2 separate regions of the Homo sapiens genome follow, and region 2 is linked to region 1. The links come from fine-mapping of genetic effects on gene expression. A gene starts in region 1. The other region holds a variant in brackets. All regions are shown on one strand. Distances are from middle to middle. Region 1 holds the start of LRRC58 (leucine rich repeat containing 58). Region 2 has its middle 27 kb from the start of GPR156.

Evidence for each region. PIP is the estimated chance that this variant, and not a neighbour inherited with it, causes the effect. A credible set is the group of variants that fine-mapping cannot tell apart.
Region 2: its variant is the best candidate, but not a certain one, in a credible set for the expression of LRRC58 in whole blood (INTERVAL, PIP 0.75).

Annotation. Positions count from the first base shown.
Region 1 is chr3:120,346,215-120,351,592 of GRCh38, reverse strand. LRRC58 (leucine rich repeat containing 58) reads left to right here and starts at 2,239. Exons shown (of 4, transcript NM_001099678.2): 1 at 2,239-2,849. The coding sequence starts at 2,350. It also overlaps the pseudogene BTNL12P. RefSeq lists a silencer at 2,244-2,573 and an enhancer at 2,924-2,973.
Region 2 is chr3:120,309,243-120,314,620 of GRCh38, reverse strand. No RefSeq gene overlaps it. Among named protein-coding and RNA genes, the nearest start is that of GPR156, 27 kb to the right of the region's middle. RefSeq lists an enhancer at 669-1,272. The variant C/T (reference allele first, on the strand shown) is at 2,380.

The DNA of each region.
Region 1 (5,378 bases):
AACTAAGAGATATATCCAACTCAGTCAATCCAAATTATTTGCAAGAAATCATACTAGGCAATGGGGGATGGTGGTGGTGTGAGGGAGAATCCAAAAATGAATAAAGATAGTCATTCTATGTAAGTAGGAACCTACTCTAATTGGACATGAGATGTGCATTTTACACTGAAATTTACAGTTTCCTTGCCAATAGCTTCAATGAGGCAGAAACACAGTTTTCAACTTTTAGAAAGCAGTTTCTCAGTTATCTTAGCTGCTCAATGGTCTGGTTACATTTATCCTAAATTCAACAACCAAATAGTTGGAGACTTTATTAAATTAAAAGCTCCTAGTACAGCGTTGCAAGCAGTAGGTTTTCAAAATTTGTCAGGTTACTCATTTCTTTACCTACACCACTTTTTTTCTACTTCCTTTCCTTTATTCTATATAATGTGGAGTTCCCATACTAAGTATTTTTTTCCAAACTTTCTACTAGGAAGCCTCATTTGCTATTATTGAGGTTATCTTTTTCCCTTTAATTCCACTGATTTGTAATCTTACCTCTTATTTTATTTTTCTTGAGACAAAAAAAAAAAAAAGTGCAGGGCAGTGGCACAATCATGGCTCTCTGCAACCTCTACCTCTTAGGCTGAAACAATCCTCCCAGCAGCCTGTGTAGTAGTTGGCACCACAGGCGAGCGCCACTAGGCCCGGCTAATTTTTGTATTTTTTGTAGAGACGGGGTTTCCCCATGTTGGCCAGGCTGGTCTGGAACTCCTGACCTCAGCGATCTGCTGGCCTGGGCCAAAGCACTGGGATTACAGGCATGAGCCATGGCACCTGGCCAACTCTTATTTCTGAATTATGTTTGAATCCTTTCTTTTTCTCATTTTACATTACGTTCCTATCACTTTTTAAAATCCAAGATAAATATTTTAAAGCAAAAACAACTATTATTTTAAATATTTGTTATTTTCAGATATTAGGACTACTGTTAGAATGCTGGCTTGACCCAAAATAAGGTCTGTTCTTAAAAGGACTCTTTCAAAACAGATGACTCATCAGTTTTAAAAAGCATTCCACCATTAGCTTAAACATACAAAGTACGTCCTTCTAGGACTACCACTCAATCAGAAATTAAAGTTTGACTGCAGAGTAAAGGCATAGTTTCTCATACAAATAAATGACTGGCAAGAAAAAAACGACTTTCCTTTTTTAAGGAGGAAAGCAATTTAATGTCGTTGATTATACACGACCACTTAACTTTCTTATGTATAAGCTTTGTTAAAAAAAAAAAAAGCTAAGCATTTTTTCTCATTTCTATTCATTACTTTTCAAAATCATAAAATGTAATTTCAGAAAAGATTGAGTTTGGGACAAGGATGAAAAATACGTTAATTAGAATTACTAAATTAGTACCAGATCAGGATTTTCCCAAACTGTAGTTTTGACCTGCAGTACAAACTCTATGCTTTGAGTTTTTAAACTAACTCATTAATTTGAGCTATCTCAAATCATGCAACCGCCTCCATATCTCCCAAATTCACTCCTAGACACAACTTACACCAAAAGCCACGTATGTGCTTCTACAATTAAAACGGGCAAAACGTCCTTACTTGATACACATTTCTGCCTTAAAAAAGAAAAAAATAATTCTGTGGGGCAAGTAGTGCGGGTGTTACCCATATTTTATGCATGGGGCAACTGAAATCAAATCCCTGCCCTAGGCTATTTAACAGCGGAACCTCCAGTAAGGGTCCGGGGGTTCTGAGGTCTAGTCCAGCTGCGTTCACATTTCGAGGTCGGCTTTGTTAATCCTCGGACTTTAAATTCCTGCGGTTTTCTGTCATGGAGCTAAATCACCACTAAATTACTGTGTGCTCACAGAGTCCTGCAGACACGGGCCCCACTTTTAAACTGAAAAACAAGCGGGGGACGGGGGGGGCACGTGACGCGCGAACCCTCAAGGCGAGATAACCGAACATCCTTGGGCTGTTTGCCGAGGCAGTCTTGTAGCCCTGGAATAGGTCACCAGGCTCCAGCGACTATAAAGCGCGGCCGCCGAAACCCGGTCCGGCTCAGATGACAATTTGGCAGCCTCTGGGTGTCTGCCTCAGTTCTGCGCAGCCCATGCTGCGCTCTTGCCACTCCGCGCCCCGCGCCTCGTGAGGCAGAGCCCGCCCCGGAGCGGCGCGCGCACCCCAGGACTCGCGTCGCGTGACTCGGCCAAGGCGCGCAGGGTTTGCGCCCGCCCGCGCCACTTCCGACTCAGCCCTCGGTTCAGGTTCCGGGGCGCCGCAGAGCTCCCGGCCTCTGGACCGCGCGCGGCGCTCTGGGGAATCCGGCGCCACGCGCCGTGCGGTGGCCAGGATGGAGGAGGCCGGAGCAGCGGTGGTCACGGCCGGGGAGGCCGAACTGAACTGGTCCCGCCTCAGCGTGTCCACCGAGACGCTGGAGTCTGAGCTGGAGGCGCGGGGGGAGGAGCGGCGCGGGGCGCGGGAGGCGCTGCTGCGGCTGCTGCTGCCTCACAACCGTCTGGTGTCGCTGCCACGGGCGCTGGGCAGCGGCTTCCCGCACCTCCAGCTGCTGGACGTGAGCGGCAACGCGTTGACCGCGCTCGGGCCGGAGCTGCTCGCTCTGCGCGGCCTGCGCACGCTGCTGGCCAAGAACAACCGGCTCGGCGGGCCCAGTGCGCTGCCCAAGGGCCTGGCCCAGTCGCCGCTCTGCCGCAGCCTCCAGGTGCTCAACCTCAGCGGCAACTGTTTCCAGGAGGTGCCTGCCTCGCTCTTAGAGCTGCGCGCGCTGCAGACCCTGAGCCTGGGCGGCAACCAACTGCAGAGCATCCCGGCTGAGATCGAGAACTTGCAGAGGTGAGCGGGTGTGTGCCGGAGGGTGGGGAGGCCTCGGGCGGTGTCCGGGAACCCTGGGGCGCCGGGCCTGGGCACCTCAACGTTTGTCACGTAACTATTTCCAAGCTTTCTCTTTAACTGTGCGGTAGTGAGTTCTGCCCAACCATCTCAGCAAGTTGTTGTAAATACCTAGTATGTTCGCATGTGTGACTGTTTGGTGTGTTGTGTTTGGCCTATGCAGATTCTCGAGGCATTTTTTCTGTCTTCCTTATTGAATCTGGGGCGTGATCCAAACTGAGTGGAAACTCAAAACAGATGTAAATCAGAGGTTGTCACTTCTTTGCTCAAAAGTCTTCCGTGGATTTCCATCTCTATAGATCAAAGTACGTGCCTTTGAGCGTGGCGTACAAGGTGCTCTGATCTAACCCTTGCTTTCCACTACATTTGCAGCTTCCTCTTCTCTGTGGCAGTACCAACTACCATTTGTGGAGTTCAGTGACCTATGCATTTTCCCACGTAGAGAAAGCAGCTTGGAGTTGCTGGTAGGCACTCAGTATGTGTTGAATGGATGCAGTGCCTCTGTACACGTGCTGTTTCCCTTGCTTGGAATGTTTCCTTCACCTGGCAAACGCCTATCATCCTTCAAAAGCTATCTCAAGTTAATCATCTCTGTGATTCCTTTTTTACTACTCCCTGCACAACAATTTTTTTCGTTACTACTCCCTGCACAAAAAAGTACAGCCTATGCTGTACTTTCTCTGTGCTTCATTCATCTTGCCTTTGCATTTACCTTATTGGATATGATTCCTTGTTTACAGGAATTATCTGCTTCACCTACTAGATTATGCAGTAAATATGTTAAATTTAACTTTAGGAGGAAGCAGAGAAACAGGATAATAAAAGTGCCCGGTGGGGGAGTGGGAAATAGAGCCAAATGTATTGTACAAAACGAAAAAGAGGTATCTTCCATCTGTAAGATATTTTCACACTTTATTGTATTTTCAGAGATAACAGAACGTTAAAGGTAGAAGGGACCTCAGAGTTAAGTGGAGCAAAAGAATATTGGCCTGGGAAGGCCGGGCGCGGTGGCTCACGCCTGTAATCCCAGCACTTTGGGAGGCCAAGGCAGGTGGATCATGAGGTCAGGAGATCGAGACCATCCTGGCTAACAAGGTGAAACCCCGTCTCTACTAAAAATACAAAAAATTAGCCGGGCGCGGTGGCGGGCGCCTGTAGTCCCAGCTACTCGGGAGGCTGAGGCAGGAGAATGGCGTGAACCCGGGAAGCGGAGCTTGCAGTGAGCCGAGATTGCGCCACTGCAGTCCGCAGTCCGGCCTGGGCGACAGAGCGAGACTCTGTCTCAAAAAAAAAAAAAAAAAAAAAAAGAATATTGGCCTGGGAAAAAAGAACTCTTGGTGCTCCAGCCTTAGGCAAGTCACTTGTATCCTAACTGTAGCGTATCCTAACTGTAGCTTTCTAATCTACAAATGAAGCATTTGGGCAAGATGTCTCTTCATTTACTCTTCAATAGATATTTATTGAATACCTGCCCTGTGTCAGGCACTGTCCCAAGTATTGGGGATACAATGGTGAACATGATCCAGGAGACAGACATTAAACAACTAACTATGAACCTCATTATTTAATTACAGTGGTTATGAGTTCTATGAAGACCTACAGAATGCCTTGAGACAAAATGACAGAGGCACATGGGAAAGCCCAGAGGCAAGGAGGGTAACTACTAAAATTCTGAAAGAAGGACATTGTACTGGGAAGTGAGCAAGAGGGAAAGTGGCAAATATAAATTTGGGCAAGTCAGCCCGTGTCAGGTCTTGAAGGCTATGATAAAGTTTGGATTTTATTCTAAGTGCACATGAGAGAGTTTTAAGCATGTGTCTTGTTGCTATGCAAGAATGGAGTGAGGAGAGGGTGAAGAGATAGAGATTTTGAGGGCTGGTTTGAAGGAGGTCATTGTAATAGGATGAGAGATGATGGTAGCCTATACCAGCTTGATACTAGGAGAAATGCTAAGAAATGGAAGATTTCGAGAAAAGATTTAGAGGTAAAATTGACAGCCCTTGGTTCCTTCTAATTTTAATGTTGCATAATTCCAGCCTTGGAATTTTCTTAATATACTAACAGGAACCCAGGGAAAGTATTATTTCCATCACATGGGGAGAAAAGTAGGCAAAAATCCCATTTATTTAATACTTACAATGCAGTAGATCCTGTCATAGGTGCTAACTATGCTTTTTAATACTCACAATGATGCCATAAGATGATGTGCTCCCATTTTTCAGAGGCAGAAACTGAAGCTCAGAGAAATTAAGTCATAAGATTACAAGGCTAGTAAGCATTGGAACTGTATTTGACCTCTGTGGTCTGTGACTCCAAACCCTTGAGTTCTGCACAGTGGCAGAGTACTAGAACCTGAATCTTTGTTGGGGGGTTGGAGGGTCATGGTTTTTTGCTTGTTTTTGTTTTTTGTTTTTTGTTTTCTGTTTTTTTGAGATGGAGTTTCACTCTGTTGCCCAGGCTGGAGTGCAGTGG
Region 2 (5,378 bases), 37 kb after region 1:
TTTCTTATATTTGTGGGCTTTTATTCTTTCCATCTTTGAAGTTGCTGTCTTTTTTGTCTTTATCCTATTTGGTGACCTTGGGGACCTGATTATAGTAGTGTTGGGTTCAGGTGACTGACTTCATTTCTGGAAGATTTTAGGGGGCCAAGCTTCAGCTCAGGACTCCTGGACTGCATGTTCTAACTCTGGGAGACTGGTATTGAGCCCCAACTTTGTTCTCTGGCTCCTCGAGGTTATGAACCTATTGTGCTGGAGGGGCCAAGGTGTTCCCAGACTACTGGTCACAATACTCTAATGGGTGATGCCATCCAAAGCACATCATAGCAGGGTGACAGTGTGATCTGTCCTAATTTGCCTGTGCCAGCTGCAGCAGCAGCAGCAGCATGGTGGGATGCATACTGCATGCTCATCAGCTACAGCAGGGTACTAGTGGGTACTAGGGTGGCAGCCTTCATGGGGCTGTGTGCATGTTCCTCTGGTGGTGGTATTAGTACAGGGTTGGGGCACTGGAGGGTGCAGGACTGTGTGAGGTCTCTGTGCACATTCACACCCACAGCAGTGGCTGGTCAGAGCAAGGGTGGGTTCACTATTCTCCATGACTAGTTATGTGCCAGTGGCAGTGTTGGCACAGAGGCAGGGCACTTGCAGGGGTAGGACTGGCAAGCTCCATGCTCACCACCATCTGACAACAATGGCATTGTGACGGGGGAGGGGAGCAGGGTGCAGTCACCCTGGCAGCAGTGACATGGCAGGGTGCACACACCCACACATACTGGCAGGGAAGGTAAGGCAAAGTCTGCCTTCATACACATACACTGGCACAGTGATGCAGGGGGTGGCTGTGGGCAAGTGCATGCAGTCAAAGTGGCATGGGGGAGGCTGCAGTGGAGGGAGGGCACAGGCAGGCTGGTGTGTGTCCATAGGGGCCACTCTGCTGGAGCACTCTGCTGGTCAGACAAGGTCTGCCAGTCTTCGGATGTCCTAGTCCCTTGGGGGGAGATGTTCCTCCTGGCTGCGTGTAGTTGGCCATCTTAGAGAGAGAGCCAGGAATTTCTTTCTAGTTCTAAGAAAACATAGAATCAAAGGATTAGCAGCAAGAACTTGAGAAGTCATCATCACACCACTTTTTGCAAAAGGACAATTAATCCATTAGGGTAAAAACATATCCTATGTTTAAATAACTCCCAGAAGATTTTTCTTCTTTAGGAATTCTGAAGCTTAACAATGGTCACTAAAGGAAGCATTTTCTTTCTTTTCTTTCTTTCTTTCTTTTTTTTGAGACGTTTGAAACAAGAGTTTTGCTCTTGTTGCCCAGGCTGGAGTGCAATGGTGCAATCTCAGCTCACTGCAACCTCCACCTCCTGGGTTCAAGTGATTCTCCTGCCTCAGCCTCCCAAGTAGCTGGGATTACAGGCATGTGCTGCCAAGCCTGGCTAATTTTGTATTTTTAGTAGAGACAAGTTTTCTCCATGTTGGTCAAGCTGGTCTCGAACTCCTGACCTCAGGTGATCCACCCGCCTTGGCCTCCCAAAGTGCTGGGATTACAGGCATGAGCCACCACACCCAGCCAAAGGAAGTATTTTCTAAGGTTCTTGTGATTTGTGCTAGCCATATTAGATGTGCAGATAACTTTTAAATTGTTTATGTCATCAGAGAAGCACAGTGACACTAAGACGTGTGCACTACCCATTATGTTATTTTTGTACCTTGGTCTGGCTCTAAAATCTTGCTGCTCTCACTTTCTCCCAATCCACAGTTCTTCCCACCACTATAAACGTCAAGGCACACAGGAGTTGTTAGGGACAGACTCCCCCAAGAAAGCTTCTTGGTGCTGCCCACACTTCCCCCAAGTCTCTTTACATTTCTAAGCCCTTGTCTAGGCACCACGGTGAAGCCAGCAGACTTCACTTATCAGACCTTGCTGCAGTAAGCAAACCCCAATTACAAACCATCTGGACCGCACAGTGGGAGGTCGTGGGAAGCATAAACAAACTACCTACACCCTCCTATAATAAACCTCACAAGGTGATATGTGGCAAAATTAACCCCATTGAATCCTTTCTTGAAATTCTTTAACATAGTTCCTAACAAGGTAGGCTTACTTTGTGTTTTACTCATTTTCCTCAGGAGACAAAACAACACTCTTACCACAAAGAGGGAAGGGAAAAAGGGGCAAAAAGTCACTCACTCACCAAGCAATTCACACTAAAACCAAAGTATGGATAAGGAGTTACTTATTCATCAAGCAATTTGAGCCAAGTCAGAACCGAAATCAAAGCCAAAACAGTTCAAAACCAAAAGTCAATACTGAAATCTAAACCAAAACAGTGCAAATCTAGTCAAAATCAAAACCAAAACCAAGGTGCCAAAAAGGCACGC[C/T]ATGGGTGATCAGGCCACACTTCCACTCAGATGGAGTGGGCAAGTTCGAAGACCGGTCTTACCGTGTTCCAGATGTCCGGACTCCAAGCGCCAATTCCTTCCCGGTGTTCAGCCGCTGCATTAATCCTCCGCGGGGGCCTACCGTGCAGTGCTCTGGAGGCGTTCCACTGGGGCAATTGCCTACCGGGGAGCGCTCTCAGGATTCGCATCGCCAAAGCTGGCCAGAGTCTCCCACAGGGATGCTCCACTGGGCAGGCCTAAGCCGCCTAAGGGGCTGCCTCGACCATCCGCTTATCACCTTGCTTCCAGATCAGGGAACCAAGAAATGTAGCAGGACAAGCCACAGACAAAACCCCTCAGACACCGAGTTGAGGAAGGAAAGGGCTTTATTGGCCAGGAGCATCAGCAGACTTATGTCTCAAAAAAACCGAGCTCCCCGAGTGAGCAATTCCTGTCCCTTTTAAGGGCTTACAACTCTAAGGAGGTCGAGTGAGAGGGTCATGATCGATTGAGCAAGCAGGGGGTACCTGACTGGGGGCTGCATGCACCGGTAATCAGAATGGAACAGAACAGGACAGGGATTTTCACGATGCTTTTCCATACAATGTCTGGGACACAAGCAGTTAAGTCAGGAGTTGATTGTTAACTACTAGGCCCAAGGCACGTTGCTGGGCTGCCTGCCTGTGGATTTCATTTCTGCCCTTCAGTTTTTAATTCTTTTTTCTTTGGAGGCAGAAATTGGGCATAAGACAATAAGAGGGGTGTTCTCCTCCCTTACTATGACTCCTGCTTCTCAGGATACTCCACAACCAATCATGAGCCCCACTGAGTCAACAAAGCAAAAAACAATATATTAATATCTAAAGGAAAAAAAAAAGAAATAAAAGATTTTGCAACTTCAAATTCCTTACATGAGTGAAAGGAGATGATCACTGTTGAGACCCAAATTAGTGGGCTAGATGATCAAATGGGGAAAATAGCTTAGAACAAGGAGGAAAGATATAAAGTATAAAAGGAAAATATCTTAGGCCCCCAGAATCACTAAGGAAAACTCAAGCTGGAAACTGCTTAGGGCAAACATGCCTCCCGTTTTATTCAAAGTCACTCCTCTGCTCACCGACATAGATACATATCTGACTTACCCTCCTTTGGAAAGGCTAATCAGAAACTCAAAAAAATGTAACCATTTGTGTATCACCTATCTGTGACCTGGAAGCTCCCTCCCTGCTTCCTGCCTTTAGTTCAAGTTGTCCTGCCTTTCCAGACTGAACCAATGTACTTCTTACATACATTGATTAATGTCTCATGTCTCCCCAAATGTATAAAGCCAAGCTTTGCCCTGACCACTGTGGGCACATGTCATCAGGACTTCCTGAAGCTGTGTCATGACGCATCCTCAACCTTGGCAAAATAAACTTTCTAAATTAATTGAGACCTGTTTCAGATTTTCTGGGTTCACAAAAGCAATTAAAATCATGAGAGAAAGGATATGTGACATTTTGAGGATAGATCCAAGAAGTTTAGCATATTATATTGGGAGATCCAGATGGGGAAAAAGACACATAGAAGGAAAAGCAACATAAGAAAGGAGAAAAATTTTTGGACCAAGAAATACCTGAATCTACAGATTAAATGGATTCAACAAGTCCAGGCTTGATTGATAAATTCACACACACACACACACCCTTAGCAATATTCTGGAAAGATTCTGGAACTCTAAGGAAAAAAAGAAATCTTTACAAACTTTTCCACTCAGAAAAAATAAATTGCCTTATTAATTATAATGCAAACAGAATCAGACTTCTTGTGCATCAGCAGCAGCTAGAAGTTAGTGGAATATCTGCAGACTTCTGAAATGCAAGGACTCCAACTCAAGAATTTCTTGACCAGCCAAAGAATCATTTAGTTGTCAGAGTGATAGGAAGAAATTATTTGTAGGTATGTATGAAGTCAAAGACTAATGCCTACATTTTCCCACCCTAAGAAAATACTTAAGAAGTGACTCTAGCCAGATGATAGATTAACCATAAGAGAAACTACAAGATGATAAAGAAGGGAAGAAATGGTAGAGATATAGGAGCTGAAAAGAAATTATTTAGGCAGTTAGTGAGGGTAAGAGAGTCCTCGGTGAGGCTTCACTTTTAACAAAAAACAGCCCCAAAACCATTTCTTTTCTAACAAACAGCAGCCAGTAAAATCGAGCTGCAGACATAGATAAGCAAGCTGGAAGCTTGTGCAGGTGAATGCCGGCAGCTGTGCCAATAGGAAAAGGCTATCTGGGGCCAGGCATGTTCAACATGGAAGCTCCATCTTCCATTTTCTTTGTCACCATGTGTGCAGTAAAGAAACAGGGAACATGGTGCCAGCCAGGTAGAAAATTCCTTTGCATAATAAAAGATTAGGGTGCAGTGGCCAGCCTCTTCAGATGCTATACAAATGACACACCTGGTCCAACCAATTCTCTGCACCCTCTGCAAATCAGACACCACCTCCTCAAGCCCATCCGTAAAACCAGCCGCATCTTGCCAGGTTCCGGGAGATCCGTTTGGAACCCCCTCCCTCTGCACAAGGGAGCTTTTCTCTTTTGCCTATTAAACTTTCACTCTTAAACTCACTCCTTCTTAGTCCGTTTCCTTGATTTCCTTGGTGTGAGGCAATGAACCTGGGGTATTACCCCAGACAAACAACACTGCTTCAGTAGTGAGCAACAAAATGTAGAACAAATAAATCAATATAAAGACATATATAGACAAAAGATATCTAGATAATTACAGATGGAGAATGTGTAAGTGCAGATACAAAACAACATAATAGCTAGATATATGAAGCAAAACCTGTAAGAAATAAAAGAAGAATTTGATTAAATAAAATTATATTGGAAAACTTAAACTTTTTTTTCAGAATTGGATAAATTTGGTATATAGCAAATGTGGGATGGCATAGGAATTAAATAATACAATTAATAAATGATGTGGTATCTATGTGTAAGCTCTAACATC